Linked DNA regions of Homo sapiens: all the other regions are linked to region 3. The links come from fine-mapping of genetic effects on gene expression. A gene starts in region 3. Each other region holds a variant in brackets. All regions are shown on one strand. Distances are from middle to middle. Region 1 overlaps RFTN1 (raftlin, lipid raft linker 1). Region 2 has its middle 9.3 kb from the start of LINC00690. Region 3 holds the start of RFTN1 (raftlin, lipid raft linker 1). Region 4 overlaps RFTN1 (raftlin, lipid raft linker 1).

Region 1 (5,123 bases), 140 kb after region 3:
CAAAATGTCACGTTTGAAGTGGATTCTAGACTGTGAGCTCTTTTATCTCCTGTGCTCTCGAAATTGCCCTTGAATTATCCAGTTTTCACACAGGAAGTGTCAGCCTGCCAGGCACCGATGAAAACCTACACACCACCTGTTAAAATACTTGCCTAAAGCAAGACATTTTACAGCTGAGCAAACTGGGGTTTAGAGAGGAAATTTGTTGCCCAGTCTGGAAATAGGCAGTTCGGGCATATGAACCCAGGTGGACTTACCCACCATCCCTTCACGCCTCTCTGCTTGGTCTTTCCTGTGTGATAGACTAACAAGATTTGCCGAGGCCCTTAATAAGATTTACAGGGAGCAAAGTTTCCCTCCGTTTCTCTGTATTTCCTTTTTCTCTACTTTCTTCAGGAAATCAACCATCCATATTTCCCCCTTTCTCCAGGAAATCTAGCATCTGGTCATTTCCTGAGAGCAAGGTACTTACATAAGCCATGTAAGTAAGAACAAGTATGAAAACTAACAGAAGACCCCCAGGGCTTAGGAGGGCTTTCTGTTTAGGCCTTTCTGGATGATCTCCCTGGTTAATATTGTTATTACCATTTATTTACGAATTCTTGAATTTAGCCTCTTACAAGTGATAATGAACAGGTGGTGCTTCCAGAAGGGAAAACAAGGAGAAACAGTTTCTTTTGTTACATCAGAACTTCTTGAGAGGAAAATTATGGGATGGTTAATTCCAGGGGCTTATTTGCAAAGTTGATTTAGAGGGAGATATTGGAGCTGCGTCAGTTTTGTGATGTAGTAAGACTATTGTTTAATCAAGGCATTGAGCCTTCTTAGTATGCACTGAAGTAGAGCCCTTCATCTGTGTGATTTTTCGCTGTTTGAGGCACATGCCTGCTGCCCTCATGAAGTAGCTGAGCATGCATTTAAGCCCAGTGTGTCGTCCTCATGAACGCCCAGGTCTTAGTCCAGAAACCTCCATCTTCTCATGGAGGCTGGGCTGGATGTGTGTGCTCTGAATCCTGGGCAGGAAGATGGACCTCACTGGAGTCCTTCTGTACGGTCCAGGACTGTGGGAGGGCGAGAGTCAGGCCAGGCAGAGGCCCCCAGGAGAAAGGGCAGGAGTGATGGAGAGGTGAGGAGCATGGTGCTCAAGAATCTAGAGTATACATTCCGGCCTGCCTTCCGTGCCTCAGTTTCTCACCCTTTGAAATGGGGATAGAACGATAGTTTCTCATGGAAAGGTTAAAGTTGTACATTTAAAGCACTCGGCACTGTTTGACTCATGAGTATGAGCTGCTATTATTGGGGTACAGGCTCAGTAGTCCTGACACTCGACCTCCACCTCTCATGGAATCCTGGCTTTGAGAAAGGAGGCAGTTACTATTGAGGTTTCCTCAGTAGCTTTCAGATGCTTCCTGTGTTCCAGAGCCCACCTTCCTCCGATACTCCTTCCAGACTTCCTGCCTCCTGTGAGAGGATTATTCACTGGGGAAACTTGTCCAAGGAACTTCCGCAGGTGCCCAGGACCTTCTTGCTACCCCGTGGCCACTCACCTTCCTCACCCAGAATCTCCCCTGATGGCTGAACACAGAAAAATTGACACCCAAAGCATCTTGGCCCCTATCCCATCACCCAAGTCCCTGTTCTCTCCTGGAGAAACAGACCCTGCTGGGGAGGAATGGGTGAATGTGTGTGTTTCTGGAGGTGGTCAGCCCACCAGTGGATGAGAATTTCAGCTCTGCACGGGTAGGCCAGGAGGAGGGATTAAAGCCTCCTTCGAGCCCAGTCTCCCTAGGCAGGTAAACACTGCCTGTCTCTACACATAAAGCAGTCCCTTTATCTCTCTGCTCAGGCTGCGAATCTCTGAAATTTAGGCAGCTCACTATTATCCCTTTTCCCTCCTTTGATGGAATAGATGAGCTTTTGGGTTTTTCATACAGGGATCATTTCACATATAAGCCTTTCAGTGGTCACGATGGCAGTCACCCTCCAAGTGCCCTATTCTGTGTCCTTCTTGTGTCATCTCAGTAACTCCTCACAACAGCTTTATGGCAGAAGATGCTATTACTAGATCCATTTTACAAATAGGGAGTGTCACCTTTTATACCCCCATATAGTTAAATTTCTTTATCACAGCTTGAGTATTTGGCCTCCCTGAAGGCTGAACGTCCAGGGACCCTGTCCTTATTGGTTGTGACCCTCACCTGACCCCCAGCCTCTCTCCTAATCTTTCTCCTAGGAAGCCCACTCACTGTCACTCCCCCACAGGCACACACGGGCCCCCCCAGGCACCCCTCCCCACTGCCTGCTCAGCTCCCAGCTTGCCTTCTCTCAGAGCCCCCTAAGGGAGGGTGAAGTGTTTTTTACTCCTCTTCTGCCAGGTGGGCTTAAATAGGCAATCACAGCAAGACAATTAAAAAAAATCCAGAGGGAGTCTCCCTCCTCTTCCCTCCTTCTCCTCAGTTAATTTATTTCCTTTATAGGAGGCCTTGGGGAGAGGAATCTAGGCAATGCCTGCTCAGACAGGACTTTCCAGTGGATTCTCCATGCGGAAGCAGGGGCAGGTCGTCCCTCCCCATCTCTGCGGGCTCGGTGCAGCCGTCACGCCTCCTTGCCCCTGCAGGTTCTTGGGGAGGCCCGCCGTGGGTTCCTCTTCCTGCTCGCTGACTTATTTCCTGGTCTGGGGGAATTTCCTTTTGGTTGGAGGTCCGTGCTGTGCCGTGATCACCTGAGCCTGTGCAGGGACAGCCTCAGTGTCTCCGTTGCCACAGCTTCCATCAGAGAAACCAGGAGGCTAGACAGGTTCACGAAAATTCTAATCATTCTCACCGTCACCAAAATAA[C/T]AAGTCTTCCAAGCACTGCCCTTCCTACCCTGCACCTCCTCACTTAAAATGCTTAGAAATGTCAGCCAGAAACCCAAGCGTGTGATGCCAATCATGTTTCTGGCTGAGAGGATTTTATTCAGTAGCCCTCCCTGGCTGCCAGCTCATTGTGAATGGCCAAAACCTGGGGGTTGGGCTTTCCTGATGTGAGGGCTCCTTCCCTCCCAACTCCCTTGGGATAGTTGGACCCCATGATGCGGCCCCCTCCCAGATCTGCCACCTGCCGCCATCTTTCTGGCCTTTTACTCAGTCCATTAACAAACAGCTATTGAGCTCCCACCCACGGTCATCAGCCCCTGCCTTCTGTGTCCTGATGAAGTTAGCCTCTTGTTAGATTTGGGAAAGAGCCCAGGGTTTGGGGTTTGAAAGACTCTTGGCTGTGCCACTTACTGGCTTGTGATTTCTGGGGGATCCACTTAGCACTTCTGGGCACAGAACCAGGGCCACCCCCTCTCATCAAGTTTGGGAGAGTCACATGAGATGGTGAAGGTGAAAGGCCCTTGTAAATATGGGACACATGCCTGTGGCTGCTGTCATGCTTGCAGGTGGAGTCCTGTGGATTGTTGTGCACGCAGCAGCGGTCCCTGCACTTTGCCTTTCCTGCTGCCCTGGCAAGCGGGCCTCACTATTAGTACCTGCTATTAGTACCCAAGCCTTAGCGAAGCTTGAGCAGCCTTGCCCAGATTTAGGCATCTGGATGGAGCAGCCTGGGGCCCTTCTACCCTCCTGCCCTGCCTCGCCACCATGGTGCCCACTGCCTCCCTTCCCAATGCAAACCTTTCTGCTTAGTTCCTTCTGCCCATGACCTCAGCAGCCTGCAGTCCCCACCCAGCTTGGACTGCCCAGCCAAGTGTGATGCCCACTTGTTCCTTCCAATGCAGCTAATGACCAGCTGCCTCCTCCTCCCACATCTAGCCCTTGGAGCCCCAGATTTTCACCCAGGCTCTAAACTCTTTCTTCTCTCCAGACCAGAGGTCTCCTGGGACAGCAGGGCCCAGCCAGTCCCCTGCTTACCCTCAAGACCTGGGCTCTCTGGGGCCCCACCTGCAGGCAAACTGCAGCCTTCCATCCTGTGCCAGAGTCCCCACGCCCAGGTACAGACCTCAGGGCTGGACAGCTGCCTCTTTCCTCCCCACTCCCTAGTAGCCTGGCAAGGCCTGAATGGACCAGGCTCCAAGGCTGGCAGGACTCAGCCACCCCCACCCTTGGGCCCCATGCCCCCTTAACCTGCCCTCACTTTCTCCTCTGGTTGGCTTAGGTCAATACGGTGAACACGTGTAACAGGAGGGATCTAAATGAGGCAAGGTGGGGGAAAGGGAGAGATGAGAAGACAGTCCAAATGCTCCTTGGGTGCTCTGCCAGTACAGTCCTTCAGCCACTCCCAGAACATTCTCAAAAACAATGCCTTCCCTATCCCTTTGGGACTTACCATCCCATGTCTGGAAAAATCTTCCAGCTGGGGTCATGGCAGAGTCACAGAGCAGCTGAGAAAATTTAAACAAACGTGGGGCTTCTTTTTGGAATCTTTGGTGCTTGCTCACGTGAGGATGTGTGTTGGAGAATCAGAATATTAAAACATCAAAGGACATCACTTTTGGACAGTTCTCTTGGCTGGTTTCCATGTGGGTAGAGAAAGGACTGGAGACAAGGAGATGATGGGGCAGAGGAGCGTACAAGGGTTATGCATGTGCAATCAGGTTTCTCCCAATATTTCATTGCTGCTGATGCTTTGGAGGCTCTTCGTTCCAACACTGTTTCCTTTTCCTGAGAAATTTATTTCTGTCTCTGGCTTCAGTCTGGCCCCCTGGGGAGGATCAAGCCGGGAAAGCTGTCAGCACCGTCTACCTTTTCTGAGGGTCTCTGTCTTCCTCCGCTACACCCCCAGCATTCTCACTTCTCCTTTGGCCTTCCCCTTTTCCTGGTTCATTACGCATTTGGGAAAGTTATGTTTCTGTCTTGCCATTGAGTGGGAGTTCCTTCTGTGTGATCAAGTGTTACCATGTAGTTTTGGACTTTGGCCACTTCCAAATTCCCCACCTACTTCTCCCACACAGAGGCTGTGATTTTTTTCTTCTTCTTCTTAATTCATTTGCATTTGTGCTTGACTGTAGCAGGCTGTAGCGAGTGGTGCTATGGCCCATGTTGGGGTCACCTGTGGACAGCTCTGGCCGAGCCCACCGCTTCCTTAGCCTCTCTACCTGCAGCCATTCTCGGGAATGGGCCCTGAGGAATTAATGATTCAGGAGT
Region 2 (5,166 bases), 32 kb before region 3:
CTTCTTCCCTCATGATTGCAAAATGGCTGCAACAGCTCCAAGCATCACATTATCTCCCAGCAACATCCAAATGACAGAAACAGAAAGTCTCTGTGATTTCTTCTTTTTTGAGATTAAGGAAAACTCTTCTAGAAGTACCTCCAGCAGACTTCTCATTGACTACAATTGTGGCACATGCCCCATCCTGAACTCATCACTAACAAGGGAAACAGAACTACAATTTTGGACACAGACTGATCAAGGTTTACACCTTGAAACTTCAATGGGGTCCAGATTCCAAGAACTATCTGCTGCTCAGTTCCTGAACAGAAATCATTTTCTATTAACAAAGAAGAAGGTGGTAATCACTGTTGAGTTGGTGACCAACAGCTGTTGCCACAATTGTCATTTACTTCTGTTAGCCTCAAGGTCAGTGACATCTCCTCTGTGGGCTGGTGATTTCTCACTCTTGATTTCTCCTAGGCCATGTGTCTGATTTCTTCTAGGCCACAGATGCAACACGTACATGAAAATCTGAATTCCCACCGCACATTTGTTTGCAAAACTCTGTTTGCCATTTCTCTCCACTTCTTACGCCTACCTCTACAGATAATAGGGGCATGCATCTCTTTAGGGTGACCTTTGCATATTTATGCTAATTGCAGATTTAAACTATAAGCCCTAACACTCATAATCTCCTAGCTTCCCTCTGTAAAAAAATCCCCCTAAGTGATACTTAATTTCACATGCTTGCCAAATCTTAAATCCAAAAGCAAAAGCCGATTTACCTCTGTACTGAAATTAAAGCTATACAAAGTTTTTGGCTGTGGGGGCACACCTCACTGTCCTCAGTGGCCCTTCGTAGCACAGATTTAAGTTAGGAGTCTCCCTAATTTATTATGACTGATATTTTAAAATGTCATCAAACTATCCTGTCTATAAAGAAATGACGAAGCTTTCTTCCACATTTATGCAAGTCACAGGAGACCTTTCTAAATGGACGAAGTAAAATAATCTTGGGACAAAGCATTTTACTCCATGTAAACACAATGAATACACTGCCCTGAGCATCTGTGATTTTTTCTGAACATTGCCCCTAATCCAATTTTAATGTAGGCTTGTCATGGAAACAAAAACAAACACACTTAACCTTCAAAAGGGAAGATGAATGACACTGACTTCAGGTTTTTGACAAATATCTGTAAATATCTGAGCAACCCAATCTACATGATGATCTTTCTGCTATTGCTGGCAGAGTCTAGTTCTCCCTTCCCATTTACTCTGGAGCTTATATGAGGTGGCTATGATCTAACCAGAGCAAGTTCAAGTCATAAGGCTTTGTGGTAGTGAGTTTCTCATCAAAGAAACGTAATAAGTTTCCCATAATAGAAAGGAGTCAAGCAGAGGGTAGATGACCTTTTGTCCAGGATTGTGCATAGTAGAGGTTGAACATAGAGAACTTACTGAAGGTCTCTTATTGAAGGTCCCTTCCAAAAGATCCTAAGATAAGTCAGGAAAACAATCCTTATATTCATGTGTTGTTTTATGAATCAGAAAACTCTTAGACATGTGCTTTGTCTCATTTAAGCATCAAAACAACCCTATGAGGTAGGTGGGTTGATTATTCTTGTTTTACAGATGATGAAATTGAGGTTCGGGTAGAGGTTAAGCGACTTATCTAGGGTCACACATTTAGGAAGTGGGAGGTCCTAGGACCTCTGGGTCACAGATATCTCCGTTCTCAGGACAGGGCAGACAGGAGGCAGGCCCGTCTCTGCGTGGCTGAAGCATTGTCAGGCGGGCGGCTGCACTGCTGGGCACAGAGAAGTGGCTGCTCCGGCCTTTCTTTTTCTCCTACGCCCTAAGGCTGGTCCTTGGCAAAGCTGTCTGTCCTCAGGGACCCCTATGTGTTCTTTCTCAGTTGCTGCAGGTCGGAGCTGACCAGCCTCCCCAAAAGCGAAGTGTGTGAAGCCTGTGGTTTACACTTGCTTGGTGTTTCAACCCATGCCCTGACTACACCCTCTTTTTTTCTTTATTTTTTTTTTTATTATACTTTAAGTTCTAGGGTACATGTGCATAACGTGCAGGTTTGTTACATTAAACATGTGCCATGTTGGTGTGCTGCACCCATTAACTCATCATTTACATTAGGTATTTCTCCTAATGCTATCCCTCCCCATCCCCCAACTCCACCACAGGCCCTGGTGTGTGATGTTCCCCACCCTGTGTCC[A/G]TGTGTTCTCATTGTTCATTTCCCACCTATGAGTGAGAACATGCGGTGTTTGGTTAAAAGGACCATGGCAGAAACACCCCAAAGTAGGGGGCTGTCAGGTGGGCTTTCTCTCAGCCCACAGTGTCGGTGAAGGAGAAGGGGAACACTTCTGCTCAGTGGGGTCGCTCCAGTCATGCCGTACAGGCTACTCCACCTAGTCTGAATTGTGTGAGAACACAAAAGAAAATGCCACTGCTTGGTGGGGAAAGAATGTTGGTGGAGGGGACAGGATGTCCCGTTTCAATTCCCTCACAGCCCCCAGGCTCTGACATAGATGGGAGGACAGAGTCCCTTGTGTGAGGGCCTGGGAACTGAGCTTTCTTCCACGTAGTTCTTCCAATCAGATTCTGCCCTTTTCTGGTAATTCAATGGGAAATGAATCCACCCAGGAGTCTGGGCTGGCCCCCGAAAGGAAGGTAAATACAACAAAGAAAAAATCATTGCCAATTGCAGAGACCATGTGTTCACAGGAATAAACAGGAATACAGCTGAGCGGGAAAATGGGCGTATCACCACACATTACATCTGATCAGGCAAGTGCTGGGCCAGAAATGAGTTTTGTATCTTTTTTCATTTGGGTCAGCCAGAAGGGGTATATGAAAGGGAATAAAGTATACACAGATAGCTTCAAAAATAATATCTCTAAGCTTTTACAAAGCCATCCAGTCTTGCTATTCCTAATGCAACAGGAGATCATTACATTTTCATTGAATCTGGAAGATTTTTCTCTCTCTGCTTGACTGTATTTAACCACACAGGATGAGCCGTGGGCCTGCTGGCAGTATGTTTCCTTACTGTGAGGGCCTGAGGAAACTGATGTTTGGAGAGAGGTCAGAGGCTTGCCCAGGGTTGCACAGCTTGGAAATGTGAGGTCAGGACTCTCCACCTATGTCCTGGGTGACAAGACCCAGGCATAAGATAAGCCAGGCACCCACCGCACAGCAAGGTGATGTGCGGGTCCCGATTTCCTCATTATTTTCACCCCAAGGGCTTTCTCCCATTGGAACTATGCTGGGAGGTATCCGCTCTCTAAAAGAAGGGATGCTGAGGCATAGGAAGAGAAACTCATGTTTTCTGTTCCCACACAAAAGCTTTTGAGATGCAGGAGCTTAAAACCCTGAGCCTTAAAGGAGTTCAGGTACTAAGTTGATGCCAGAAGCAATTGACTTGGAAGGGTAAATGAAGTTGCAAGAGCTGGTTCTTCTCACTCCAGAGAGCGCGAGAGAAGAGAGACGTAGGGACCACGACAATTTGGCTGTTGGTAAATGTCACTGAGAAAGGGGACTGTGCCTCATTCCTGCCACAGATCTTTCACAGCAGCCCCCCAGGGGGATGTGGGAATCGCTGAGAGGATTCACTGCAGTCAGGGAGCCCTTGCTGATGGGGCTAGGGCAGAGGAGGTCTTCGTGGACCAATGGTGGAGAGCACAGGACAGCAAGGACATCTCAGAGGCACAACAGTGGGTGGCGATGGAAACCAGGTGGCCCCTGGGATCATGACTGTCACAAACCCTGGGAGTGATGGAGATACATTATCATCTGGGCCATATGTAGTTGCTGTTTTTATAGTTTAGAAAAGATCAAATAGCAGCAATTTCATATTGTTCTGTGTAACATCATGGGAAAGCCTAAATGGCCTGAGATTTCATTTCTACCATCCAGTAGAATAAGGGTTTGAAGCGGAACCAAATTCAGTCCTAGTCAAAGACAATTAGGCTTCTCACCCATTTGTGTGGAGGCTGCGTGTGGCACTCACCACACTGAATTGCCTCGACACTACCTCGCCACCAAGCAGTTCTTGAGATGCGTGATGGTTCAGATCTGCTTCCCCAGGAGGAGGCTGGGGTGTCTCCATAACATTTGACTCTAATTTGAATGGATTCTCCTCCACACTCTGCTATTTAAGACTTACACATAGATTCCGGTATTCAGATGGAACAGGCTTGGGAGCTGGGGAAACTTGATCTTTCCTCACAATTCAGACAAGATTTCAGTCTTGTCTATGTTATATGCCCATGAGCACAGGATGAGAGGAATGTAGGTAATTTCAGAATGTATGCAGGAGCCTACAAATTATCGCTTTTACTTTTTAAATGGGTTGGGTTTTGCTTCAGGCTTCTCACTGGAGTAAGGCAAACTGGATGGGGAAGCTTGGTTCCTCCTGGCTGAGGAACGATAGCCGGGAAATTGCTGGTCAAATCATCAGCCCTCGGTCCTCCTGACATGACACAGGAACCTGGGAAGGACAGAGGAAGTGGCTGCCAGGGAGGTGAGAAGGCATTACTCCTCCAGCAGATCCATATCTAGACATAGCATGGCGACTTGTACCACCATGCTTCTCAAGCTACATGCTGAGGCTCTCTGAGGAGCCTCAGTGAACACATAGGAATGCTGCAAGATAATTTAGATTTTTGAAGGAAACTCGTTAACACCTGTCAGATACTGTGCAAAACCACTAGTTTTGATGGTTTTGCCTAGTATCTGAGTTTCAGATGGTTGCTATGATAAAAAAAAAAATAACACATTGTGAAAAGTCAATGTGAAATAGAAAATGACAATGGCAGTATCCAATTTGAGTCCAAGGTTTGAGTAATTGTTCAGTGCCCAACAGGCACACACCTCCCATTATTAAGAAATTATGATCATTTAAAAGTAAAGTAAATGTATTTTTATTTCAGTCTGTCTGTGTTATTTTTTCCCGAAGTGGCAACTATGTTTTCAGGACATAAATAATTATTAAATTATTTGGACCTGACTAATTCATAAGCAAATTTTCTGGGTATTTCTTTTGACCTGTAGTTGCTATGAAAAAAATTACTGAGATACTAGGGGAGCTGTGAACTGAAAAAACTTGGGAATCTCTGCTTTAGAAGATGGTAGAGCAGGAAAAACAAGCTAAAACAAACCTGGGTCCCTGT
Region 3 (5,130 bases):
CAGTCCATAGCAGTCAAGTGGAAAATCCAGGCAGCTCTCTACAGAACACAAGTGAATCCAACATTTGGCTCCTCATTAAATATTCCAGGTGAAAGAGAATTGGAACACCCTGGATAATTGCTGAATGCAGGTTAAGAAGAGCCTTGAAAGATCTGCATGCTATTGGCTCATCCACTCATTCCACACATATTTACTGAACACCTACTATGTGCCAGTAGGAAGCATCAGAATATCAAGAAGATCAGGAGTTCTAGAAAACCCTCAAAAATGCAGATCCAAGCAGGGAAAAAAGTCATTTAAGACATTTGCCCATGATTATTAGCACTCGGGAAAATATTGAGTGGAAGAAAATGGAAGCAATCAGAATAGCATATTAACCTCAAGCACTGGTGTCTTAAAAAAAAAAAGCACAAAAAACACAACGGTGTGCAAAAGTTTTATAGAGTGAAAATGATTTGCTTAAAAGAAATCAAGCACACTGCAACTAGGTTATGCTGCATTCCCCCACCCCCACCCTCCTTTTTCCTTTATCTTCTTTTAAATGCCTACCGGTTAACACCTATCAATTTTATTTTCTTTCTGTGGCCTAGTGACCAGCAAAGGATCAGAAAGATTTTGGATGGACCCTGACTTGCAGCAATTCAAGGCCTCGGGCAGATAGATAGCATGAAGACCCCTCCCTTTGGCTTCATAAATGGGTGTTCACAACCTCTGGTGATGCCCCTGAGCAAATGTCCCTGCGCACTACTGTCTGAACCTGGACTTACGTGGTCACCTGGTCTTATTTTCTTTCATGTGGCAAGCTCAAGTGTAGGGGGGAAATGGGGGACACTGGGGATAGTGGTGGTGAGTGTGACACCAGGAAAAGGTGGGGTGGAAAGGGAAAGGAGAAAAACAAATAAAAACAAAACAGTGGTGAGGGAGGGGGAGCAAAACAGAACTAGAAAGGCTATGGAAAGAGAAAATAAGGAAGAAAATCTCTGAGAAGCTGTGGTAACAGGAAGAGTCCCTGAAAACAAAATAGTGCTTCCTTACTTGCTGGAGGAGTGTTATTAGTGCCAGAAGGACCTCATCGAAACACTGCTGGGCCCCTAAACCAGCCCTCCACCCTGTGTGCTCCAGTGCTTAACTTTGCCCACACAGGGTCTTCTTTGCCCAATTAGAAAATGGAGATAATTAATTAAATTATCTCACCCTTCTTGTTCTAGCCCCCTTAAAATAATGATAATAGCTAAGTTATAGAGTGGTTGCTAAACACTTTACATATAATAACCCACGAAGAAGTGCCATGTGACAAATAGGCGCAGAGCAGTTAAGTCACTTACCCAAAGTCACACAGCCAGTAAGTACTAAAGCCAGGAATCCAACCCTGATTATTTGACTTTAAAGTTCCCCCTCTTAACCCCTACACTGTAATTCTGCTTGGTTTAGTTTTACGAAGAAAATATTTTCTAATGGCTCCTTGCCTCACATCTTCACTTTACTAATGCAGCCTGGTTTACTAGTGCTTCACTCTTTATATAATTTTCTCCCTGGGTGCCTCAAGTTGCCACGCAAGGTGATTCTCCAGATCTTCTCAAACCTCTGGACATCTTAAGTAGGTAGACCAAGGGATGGCAACGGAGACAGTGGCATTACCCTTCCCTGAAGCACTAACTCGCAAGAGAGAATTTCAGCAGCACCTGAGATGTTTAGGGATGCTCCCACCTGTGGAATGGGGTCGAGAAATGGTCCTCTCTCAAGTCGGCCCCAACCCCACCCCCAGCCATCAGCACCTTGATGGCAGTCGCCCTTTCAGCATCCTGGCTCAAATCTTGAAGGATCCTTGTCTCCCAGGCGCTCTTCCTGACAGCACACAACCTTGATTAGGAGGGGCTGGGAGGGAGGATCGATGAGCCCCTGACCCCTGGGTTCTGAGGCTGCCAGGGTCGCTTGCAGCTCGGCCGCGTGGAGGTGACCGGGCGGAACTCCGAGGGGGCGCGGGGAGAGCTGGGCGGGCCCACCGCTCCAGCGGCTGCTGTCAGGGGCCGCGAGGCTTTCCCTGAAGATGCAGCGTAGCATATTTTGCACATGAGTTCAGAGGAAGAGGAAGTGTAGCCGGCGGACGCGCGGCGGCGGCGGCGGGGGCGCGTCGGGGCTGGAGCCGGAGCGCGCCGGGCGCTGGGCGCAGCGAGCGAGAGCGCGGCGGCCGCGGGCTCCGGCGAGGGACAGACGCACCGATCGCCGGAGGGACAGACACACGACCACGCGGCGCCACCGCCCACGCCTCCACCCACCGGCGCCCAAGTCCTCCCCGCGCCGCCTCCTCTGTATGGCACAAACTTTCCTCCCGGGACGGAACACGCTGCCTCAGGGAGCCCGCGACCGCGCCTTCTCCTCCGCCGGTCCCATACGGTAGGCGGCGGGGGGGGCGCGACAGGGCTTGGGGTGTCGACCGGCACAGGCCCCTCCGTTTGGCCCCATGGACCGGGTCTCTGGCGGGTAGTGGGAACCGCGCGTGGCGCCTCCCTGCAGGTTGCTCTTTGCCGGGGCTCCGGAGCTGCCAGAGCAGCACCCCCTGGCCCGCGTCGGATGGGGACCTGGGCTGATCCTTGGGACGCCTGGATCTTGGGCCAACTTTTTTTTGCGGGGAACGGGTGTAGGGGAGTCATTCCTGGAGCGATGTAGGGAGAGGCACTTCGGAGCAGCCTGTTGGGGGTCGTAGGCTCTGCAGGCTCAGAAGCGCCTAGGAAGGACGCAGAGGTGGGGGAGCTTGGAGGCTACAGGTGGGTCCAGGACACACTGCCGCTGGGGTCCTCGGAAAAGAACAGGAGGGAGCTGGTCGCGGAGTCCAGGTTTCCGGGGTGCGCGCGGCCTGGGTGGGGCAGGGTGGAGGCGGTGCCTGACTGCCCCTCTGCGTGTGCCCTGGGAGGTGGGTTTGCTCTGGGGACAGAGGTGCTGGACGTGTAGGAGCAGACATGCCGCGCGCTCCGAGGAAGCGCCGGAACCACCAGAAGCACAGGGACGCGGGTGCCGAGAGTCCCCAGCACTGAAAACGGGGATCTCCTCTTCTGTAAGGGATTTTCTTCCCTTGTCTTAACCCACTTCTCTAGACTCAAGGGACGCCAGGATGGATATGGGTCTGGGCGAGGAGGAGGTGGTTGTGTATTTCGGGAAGCCCCGTTGTCAGGCACGCGCACCCCAGTCCTAGGCCAGGGCTGGTGCCCTTCACCTCCGGTGTCGCTGCCTTTGGCAGCAAGAACCGCGTGGAGGCCAAGGTTGTAGAACCAGGCACGCTCCCTGCTGTCTGTCTGTGACTCTGTGCTTGCCCTCAGCTGCCCTGTGTGGTTATGGGTGATCCCTAGGGACGCTGGGTGGTGTCAGTGAGTTTCTTCGGGGGCTTAAAACAAACAAACAAGAAGTACTTTTTTAAAAAAAAAGTCTGGCTCAATCTCTGTCAGTGGTCACCCCAGTTTCCAGCAACTCATGTGCTGGAACCCTTGTAGTCGGTACAGCTGTTTCAGGAGCTGGGCGCTCAACTAGACTAGGCATCTTCCAACCCCTGCCATCGTGTGTCATCTCAGGATAAGTTAAGGCCTTGCCAGGAAGGAAGCCGGGTGTAATGTGAGCGACCTCTGGGCCTGTGGGTAGGGCCTCTCTGCTGCCGGGATTCCTAATTTGTATCTCTGAACAGCTGAATCCCAACGAAGTTCAAGTGACCCCAGATGTCACCAAACCCCAGAGAGGGGTTACGAAGCAAGCTGTTTGGGACTCTTTGGTGCGTGTGTGCTAACCTCAGTGAAATCACTCTAACCTCAGACTGAGCTCTGCATCCTCTTTTGCCTTCAGTGGGGTTTCTGGCCCGCCTGAGTGATTCAAAGCCCCAGAGCTGGCACGTCATCCTCTGGCTGCATTTGTATATCAAGTCACTGGGTTGGTTTTTCTTTGTTTGCTTTTTGGCTGTATGGACATGGGGCAAATGGAAGTGGAGTGTTGTGCAGTTAGCTAGTAGATTTGGTACAGGAATTGAAAGATAATAAATTGGGAATACAAGTCAGTGAGTTCTTTTTCTCCCTCTTGAGCAGGAATTTTTGGCTTACATTCAAATAATTGCTTTGTCTGTAGGGAAACAAGCAGAAAATCTTTGGCATGAGTGATGTGAGTTCCTGTAAAGCTACTTATGTTCTTCCAGTCTTCTCTTTTCAGCAGAATTGAAACTATGTGGTCCCATGGCTTGGTGGGGCATGGTGCTTTGCCAAATTTCTAACTTGGTGGACTAAGGAGAGGACACTGTGACTCTATCCCCATCCCATTTTTTAAGATATAGAAAAGTTGCAAGAACAGTGACCCCCTAAATATACACACCTAGAGTCTAATTCACATTTTGCCATCTTTGCTTAACTACACACCTCCCCCAACCATCCAGCCATCCCTGTGTCCATCCATAAGTCCAGCTGATGGTTTTATGCACTTTAAAGTAAATTACAGATGTTGGTACAGGTCATTCCTAAACATTTTAGTACACATTTTATTATTTTGACTTCAATATGTGCTTATGGTTTCCTTAAGATAAAATTTATATACATATAGTGAAATGTGCAAAGATGGAAAGTACCATTTGCATAATGTTTTGACAGATGCATGCACCTGTGTAACCCTAGTCCTTATCAAGACAGAGAATATTACTGTCACCCCAGCAGGTGCCTTCATCCTCATTCTCAGTCATTCTCTGCCCTCACCCTCTCAGTGGCAACCACTGCCCTGTATCTCATCATAGGTGAGTTTGGCTTGTTCTTGAACTTCATGTAAATGGAATTCTGCAATATTGTGTAAAGCTCACCATATTTTTGAGATTCATCCATGTCGTATCCATGATTTGGTCTTTTTTTATTGCTGACTTATGTTCCGGAGTATGTCTTACTCCACAGTTTGTTTGTATATTCTGTTAATGGATACATGGATTATTTTAGTTTCTTTCTTCTAGTTTCTTTCTTTCTTTCTTTGGTTATTGTGAACAAAGCTGCCGTGAACATTTGTGTACAAGTCTCTGTAGGGACATGTGTTCTCATTTCTCATGGGTAAACACCTAGTAGTAAATTGCTGGGTCAAAAAGGAGATATATGGAAACCTGAAAAGAAACTGCCAGACCTT
Region 4 (5,166 bases), 150 kb after region 3:
GCTCCATTTGTCCTTCATCTCCCTAGAACCAACTGGCTAACTGGGGCATGCCCTCTCAATGTAATGGCCAAGACACAAGAGGCCAAGTTCAACCACACACGTGCTTTTTATGTCTCTGCTTGCATTACACCTGCTAATATCCCATTGGCCAAGCAAGTCAGATGAACAGAGCCCTAAGTGGCTGGCCTCCCCACCAGTCAATTTAGTCTTAACCACCTTCTCTCCTGATTCTGCTGCTCACCTGGTCCTTGGCTGTCCTTCGTTCACTCTGCATGTCAGGCTGGCTGTCCCTTCCTCCTGGAACTCTCAAACCCTGCAGATCCATGTTCCTTGCTTGCTTAGTTCACTCGAAGTGGGGAGCCCTACCCTGATGCCTCTTTCAAAAATAGCCACCACCACTGTGTCCACCTTCACACTCTCCCCTTGGCCCACTTAGTATTTTTCTAGCATGTATCACCTCTGACATGATGTTATTGTCTTCCTCCTCCACTGCAAGGTAAGCTTCATGTAGGCAGGGACTTTATCTTGCTGCTTGTGAGATCTCTAGTGACTACAGGACTACTTGGCACATAATAGATTCCCAGTAGGTGTCATAATGAATGGCTGGAAGGTTATTCAGTGCACTTGAACTCCAGTAACATGTCACTCACCCTTCTGAGGCCCTATATGCCATTTTTAGACTCCTCTAAGGGAAGTTTTTCTATTTAGATTACACTAAAATCATCTCCCCATAGTTTTAAAAAACTCTTTGATTCTAGTTAGGCCTTCAAGAGCCTTGTAGAGGAGAGAAAAAGGAAATTCTTTGTCATTTGTGTTGTCCATTTACTTGTGTTATACCTGTATTAACTTGTTAATAACCTCACAGAAAAGGATATAAAAGAAAACTCAAATTATATGTAATTCTACCACTTATAACTGCTGCTAGCATTTTGTGTATTTCCTTAAAGTTTGTCTAAACCATTTTAACATAAAAATCCATATTGAGCTCATGTGGCAGTTTTATATCCTAGTTTTTTCTCCATAATATTGTATCTAAAGCATTTTTCCAAATCATTAAATTCCCATAATATTTTTAGGGACAGGCTAGTATTTTATAGAAATCTCCAAATTTAACTATTTTTCTATGGTTAAATATTTGGATTGTTGAACATTTAGATTAAGTTTTTAAGTAATTTTATAAGTAATGCTTGTAGATGGGTATTTGATGGCATTGGAGGTTATTACCTCATGATAGACAAGAAAGGTAAGATTTCTGGGTGAAAGAGGGTGGACTTTTTGTGGCAAGCTCCTGCAACATTGTTAAATTGCTTTCTATAAAGATTGTACAGTTAAAATTCCCTTAAGCACTGTAAACTTTTGCATATCACCATACCTTTACCAGCAGTGAAAATTTTCTTTTCAAAATTTGTCACCTTGCTAAATAAAAAAGAAGTTGAGGCCTGGAACGGTGGCTCTTGCCTGTAATTCCAGCACTTTGGGAGTCCAGCAGTCCGAAACTAGCCTGAGAAACATAGTGAGACCGCATCTCTACAAATAATAAAAAATTAGCTGGGGTGGTGGCATGTGCCTGTGGTCCCAGCTACTCGGGAGGCTGTGGTGGGAGGATCACTTGAGCCCAGGAGGTTGAGGCTGCAGTGAGCCGTGATTGTGCCATGGCACTCCAGTCTAAGAGACAGAGTGAGACCCTACCTCAAACAAAAAAAAAAAGAAACTGCAATTTTTTTCAATGTTTACTGGCCATGGAAAGATAAAGAGAATTAATTAATTGCTTTATGTCCTTTGTTTCTAATGGTGTTTCAGTATTTTTAACTATAAAAGCTTTTTATATATAAAAATATTAAGCTTAGCCTTTATTTTTGTTATTGTTGTTGCAAATAATTTTCTCATGCTGATGACCTTTTGTTTATGGGGTCTCTTGGGAGCCAAAGCTAAAGATTGTTATATATTCACATTTGTCAGTCTTTTTCTTTGTGACTTCTAGAAAATACTGGCAGTTCCAGGAACTCCAGCATGATTCAGGGGACTTTCTGAATTTGTCTCCCTTCCCTCCCCATGAAAAAAAAAAGGTCACATTATTATGGATTTGCCCTATTAAAAATTGTCCTTTTAAAAGAGCGTATCATTGAAATGCGCTTTGTTTGTATGTTTACTAGGACTGTCATAACAAAATACCACACACTGCGTGGCTTAAACAACAGACACTTATTTTCTCTCAGTTCTGGAGGATAGAAGTCCATGGTCA[A/G]GGTTCCCACAACTTCAGTTTCTGGCTAGGGCTCTCTTCCTGGCTTGCAGACAGCCACCTTCCTGCTGTGTCCTCACGTGGCTTTTCCTCTTTACACACGCCAGGAAAGGGAGAGAGAGGGCTCTGGTTTCTCTTCCTCTTCTAATAAGGACACCAGTCCTATTAGACTAAGGCCCCATCCTACCCTAGTTAAAGGAGGACTAGGACCTCATTTAACCTTAATTACCTTCCTAAAGGCTCTGTCTCCAAATATAGTCACATTGTGGGTTAGGGCTTCAACATACGAATTTTGGGAGGAAACAATTCAGTCCATAATATTATGATTGAGCAGTGTTTATAGCATCAAGTCTGGGAACCAAGAGAGATTGTCCATAATCCCATAGATGAGAGACCTAGCCCTTGAAAGAGTCACATCACCTTTCATGATAGAGCCTAGCTTCAAACCACTTGCTTCTAAGTCAGTCTTCTTCCCCCAAATCCCTTATCAAAATGAACCTAGGACATTTAGGAGCCATGCCCCAAACAAAGGGGCAAAAGGTGCTTCCCTTAGTGTATTCTATAGGGTCAAGGACTCTGTTCAGTATTTCTTTTTTTTTTTTTTTTTTTTGGAGACAGAATCTCGCTCTGTCACCCAGGCTGAAGTACAGTGGTGCTATCTCGGCTCACTGCAACCTCCACCTCCCCGGTTCAAGCGATTCTCCTGCCTCAGCCTCCCAAGTAGCTGGGATTACAGCCATACCCTGCCACGCCCAGCTAATTTTTTGTATTTTAGTATAGATAGAGTTTCATTGTGTTGCCCAGGCTGGTCTCGAACTCCTGAGCTCAGTGAATCCTCCTGCCTTGGCTCCCAAAGTGCTGGGATTACAGGTGTGAGCCACTGCGCCTGGCCTGTTCTATATTTCTTTTTACCCTCATTGCCTAAGATAGTTCTTGATCATGCTATACATTTCATGTATACTTGTCGAATTGTGCAGAGCTCAGAACCTGGTACATTGACTAGAGCAGCACCCAGGGAAACATTTCCAGTGGTAAATTATTTGGGAAAATTCCCTCTCCCCCACATTCCACCTCTTGACAAGAGCTGCCTAAGATGTTGTCTGGACTGCAGCCCACATCATGTGAACTTCCAAAAATCAACGCATCTGACAAGCTCAGATCTGGTGTGTTATATCTCTTCCCTTTAAAAAAAAAGAAAAAAGAAAAAAAAAACCCTCACCTAAATATAGTTTGCTTCTAAAAACTGTCTCTAAATGACTGTGTTTTACCCTGGATAAGTTCTCCCCAGTGCATCCTGACGCTGGAGCATGAAAAGGAAGGTAAACGTGTGAAATCAAATGGTGATTGCTAACAATGAAATTTGGGCTCATAAAATCAAGGATATTATTCAAAACTGTGAGGTAAATTAGCCTCATTCATTCTGATAGGGCTAGATAGACTCTATGGCTTGTGTGTGCCTTCTTTAATTAACATGCTGAAAAGATGTTCTGATTGGGATTATTAATGAATGCAGTGGAAATGTTTGCTGCTTAGAAGACTTCTGCCACAGACGGTTTACAGACCCCCCCCACCCCCGCCTTTTTCTTTTTCCACAGATTCCTTACATGGCTTGACAGATGGAGTATTCATCTTTGAAGCTGTTTCCACAGAAGATAGCAAAACCATACAGGGCTATGATGCTATTGTGGTTGAACAATGGACAGTCCTGGAAGTAAGTGTGGGGTTGGCAGCCCCGCTTCTTTTGTTTAGACAGCACTTGTTTTATCCGCCTGCTTGATCTGACCGTGGGGCTGTGGCTCAGCTGTGGCTTTCTTCTGAGAGGGAGTTGACCTGGTAGGTCCTAGAAGGATCCCCTTAGTCTTTTCATTCCCCTCTTTTCCCACCCCCAGGTAGGGGTGGGCCCCGCTCTTCCCTTTCTGCAAGAAAAGCACATTGCATGTGCCTGGCCATTTGGTGGAAGGAGAGTTGTCTTCCATTAATTTGCATATAACTGACAACTCTAAGTGATATAAATGAGGCCACATAGTTTGTGGCCTCCGTTAATACTCAGAGCAGCATCAATATTGGAGCCAGACCCTGTGGCTCCCTCTGCAGCTATCCTTAGAGTTATGCACATGAGCTCACTTAATCTGCACAATAAGCCTTTTAAGTAAATACTGTTATTGCCCATTATATAGATGAGGAAACTGAGGCACAGAGAGGTTAGGTCCCTGGTCCAAGATTACACATTAAATACTGAAGAATGTCTTTGAGAAATGTTGACTCATGAGGCCACCAAATTGCTGTGGGAAGGGGAATTCCTCAAACCACGTTCTGCTGGGACTTTGGAGGAGCTAATTTACTTCCAAGATTCACTAGTGGGTAGCTGAAGGGCATTTCTCTAACTGCGGAAGCATGGACTTTTTAGCCTAGTCTCTTGTACACACAGTGTCTGGGATATAAAGGGAGAAGCTATTTGGACATAGAGAACTGAATTCTTGGTTTTTTTTGTTTGTTTGTTTGTTTGTTTTTTTGTTTTTTTTTTTTTTGAGATGGCATCTTGCTCTGTCGCCCAGGCTGGAGTGCAGTGGCGCGATCTTGGCTCACTGCAACCTCTGCCTCCTGGGTTCAAGCGATTCTCCTGCCTCAGCCTCCAGAGTAGCTGGGACTACAGGCACCCGCCACCACACCCAGCTAATTTTTGTATTTTTAGTAAAGACAGGGTTTCACCACGTTGGCCAGGCTGGTCTCAAACTCCTGACCTCAAGTGATCTGCCTGCCTTGGCCTGTTGAAGTGCTGGGATTACAGCGTGAGCCACCGTGCCCAGCCATGGACATAGAGAACTGCTTTCTGAATGCTTTGGAAGAACACAGGATTGGCATTGCTGGGAGGGCCTCTGCCAAAGAGGGCTCTCCAGGCCGAGGGAAGACAGAGGTGGATACAACCC

Evidence for each region.
Region 1: its variant is fine-mapped to the expression of RFTN1 in cerebellar hemisphere (GTEx, PIP 0.97). The same link has a PIP of 0.9 or more in cerebellum.
Region 2: its variant is fine-mapped to the expression of RFTN1 in whole blood (TOPMed, PIP above 0.99).
Region 4: its variant is fine-mapped to the expression of RFTN1 in cerebellum (GTEx, PIP 0.99).

The regions. Positions count from the first base shown.
Region 1 is chr3:16,372,362-16,377,484 of GRCh38, reverse strand. All of the region lies in intron 5 of RFTN1 (raftlin, lipid raft linker 1), which reads left to right. Among named protein-coding and RNA genes, the nearest start is that of OXNAD1, 110 kb to the right of the region's middle. RefSeq lists an enhancer at 3,643-3,692. The variant C/T (reference allele first, on the strand shown) is at 2,838.
Region 2 is chr3:16,543,015-16,548,180 of GRCh38, reverse strand. No RefSeq gene overlaps it. Among named protein-coding and RNA genes, the nearest start is that of LINC00690, 9.3 kb to the right of the region's middle. The variant A/G (reference allele first, on the strand shown) is at 2,211.
Region 3 is chr3:16,510,706-16,515,835 of GRCh38, reverse strand. It overlaps RFTN1 (raftlin, lipid raft linker 1), which reads left to right and starts at 2,137. Exons shown (of 10, transcript NM_015150.2): 1 at 2,137-2,394. RefSeq lists silencers at 579-754, 1,908-1,977, 2,008-2,367 and enhancers at 2,658-2,737, 3,288-3,697.
Region 4 is chr3:16,356,716-16,361,881 of GRCh38, reverse strand. RFTN1 (raftlin, lipid raft linker 1) reads left to right here. Exons shown (of 10, transcript NM_015150.2): 7 at 3,835-3,950. Among named protein-coding and RNA genes, the nearest start is that of OXNAD1, 94 kb to the right of the region's middle. The variant A/G (reference allele first, on the strand shown) is at 2,243.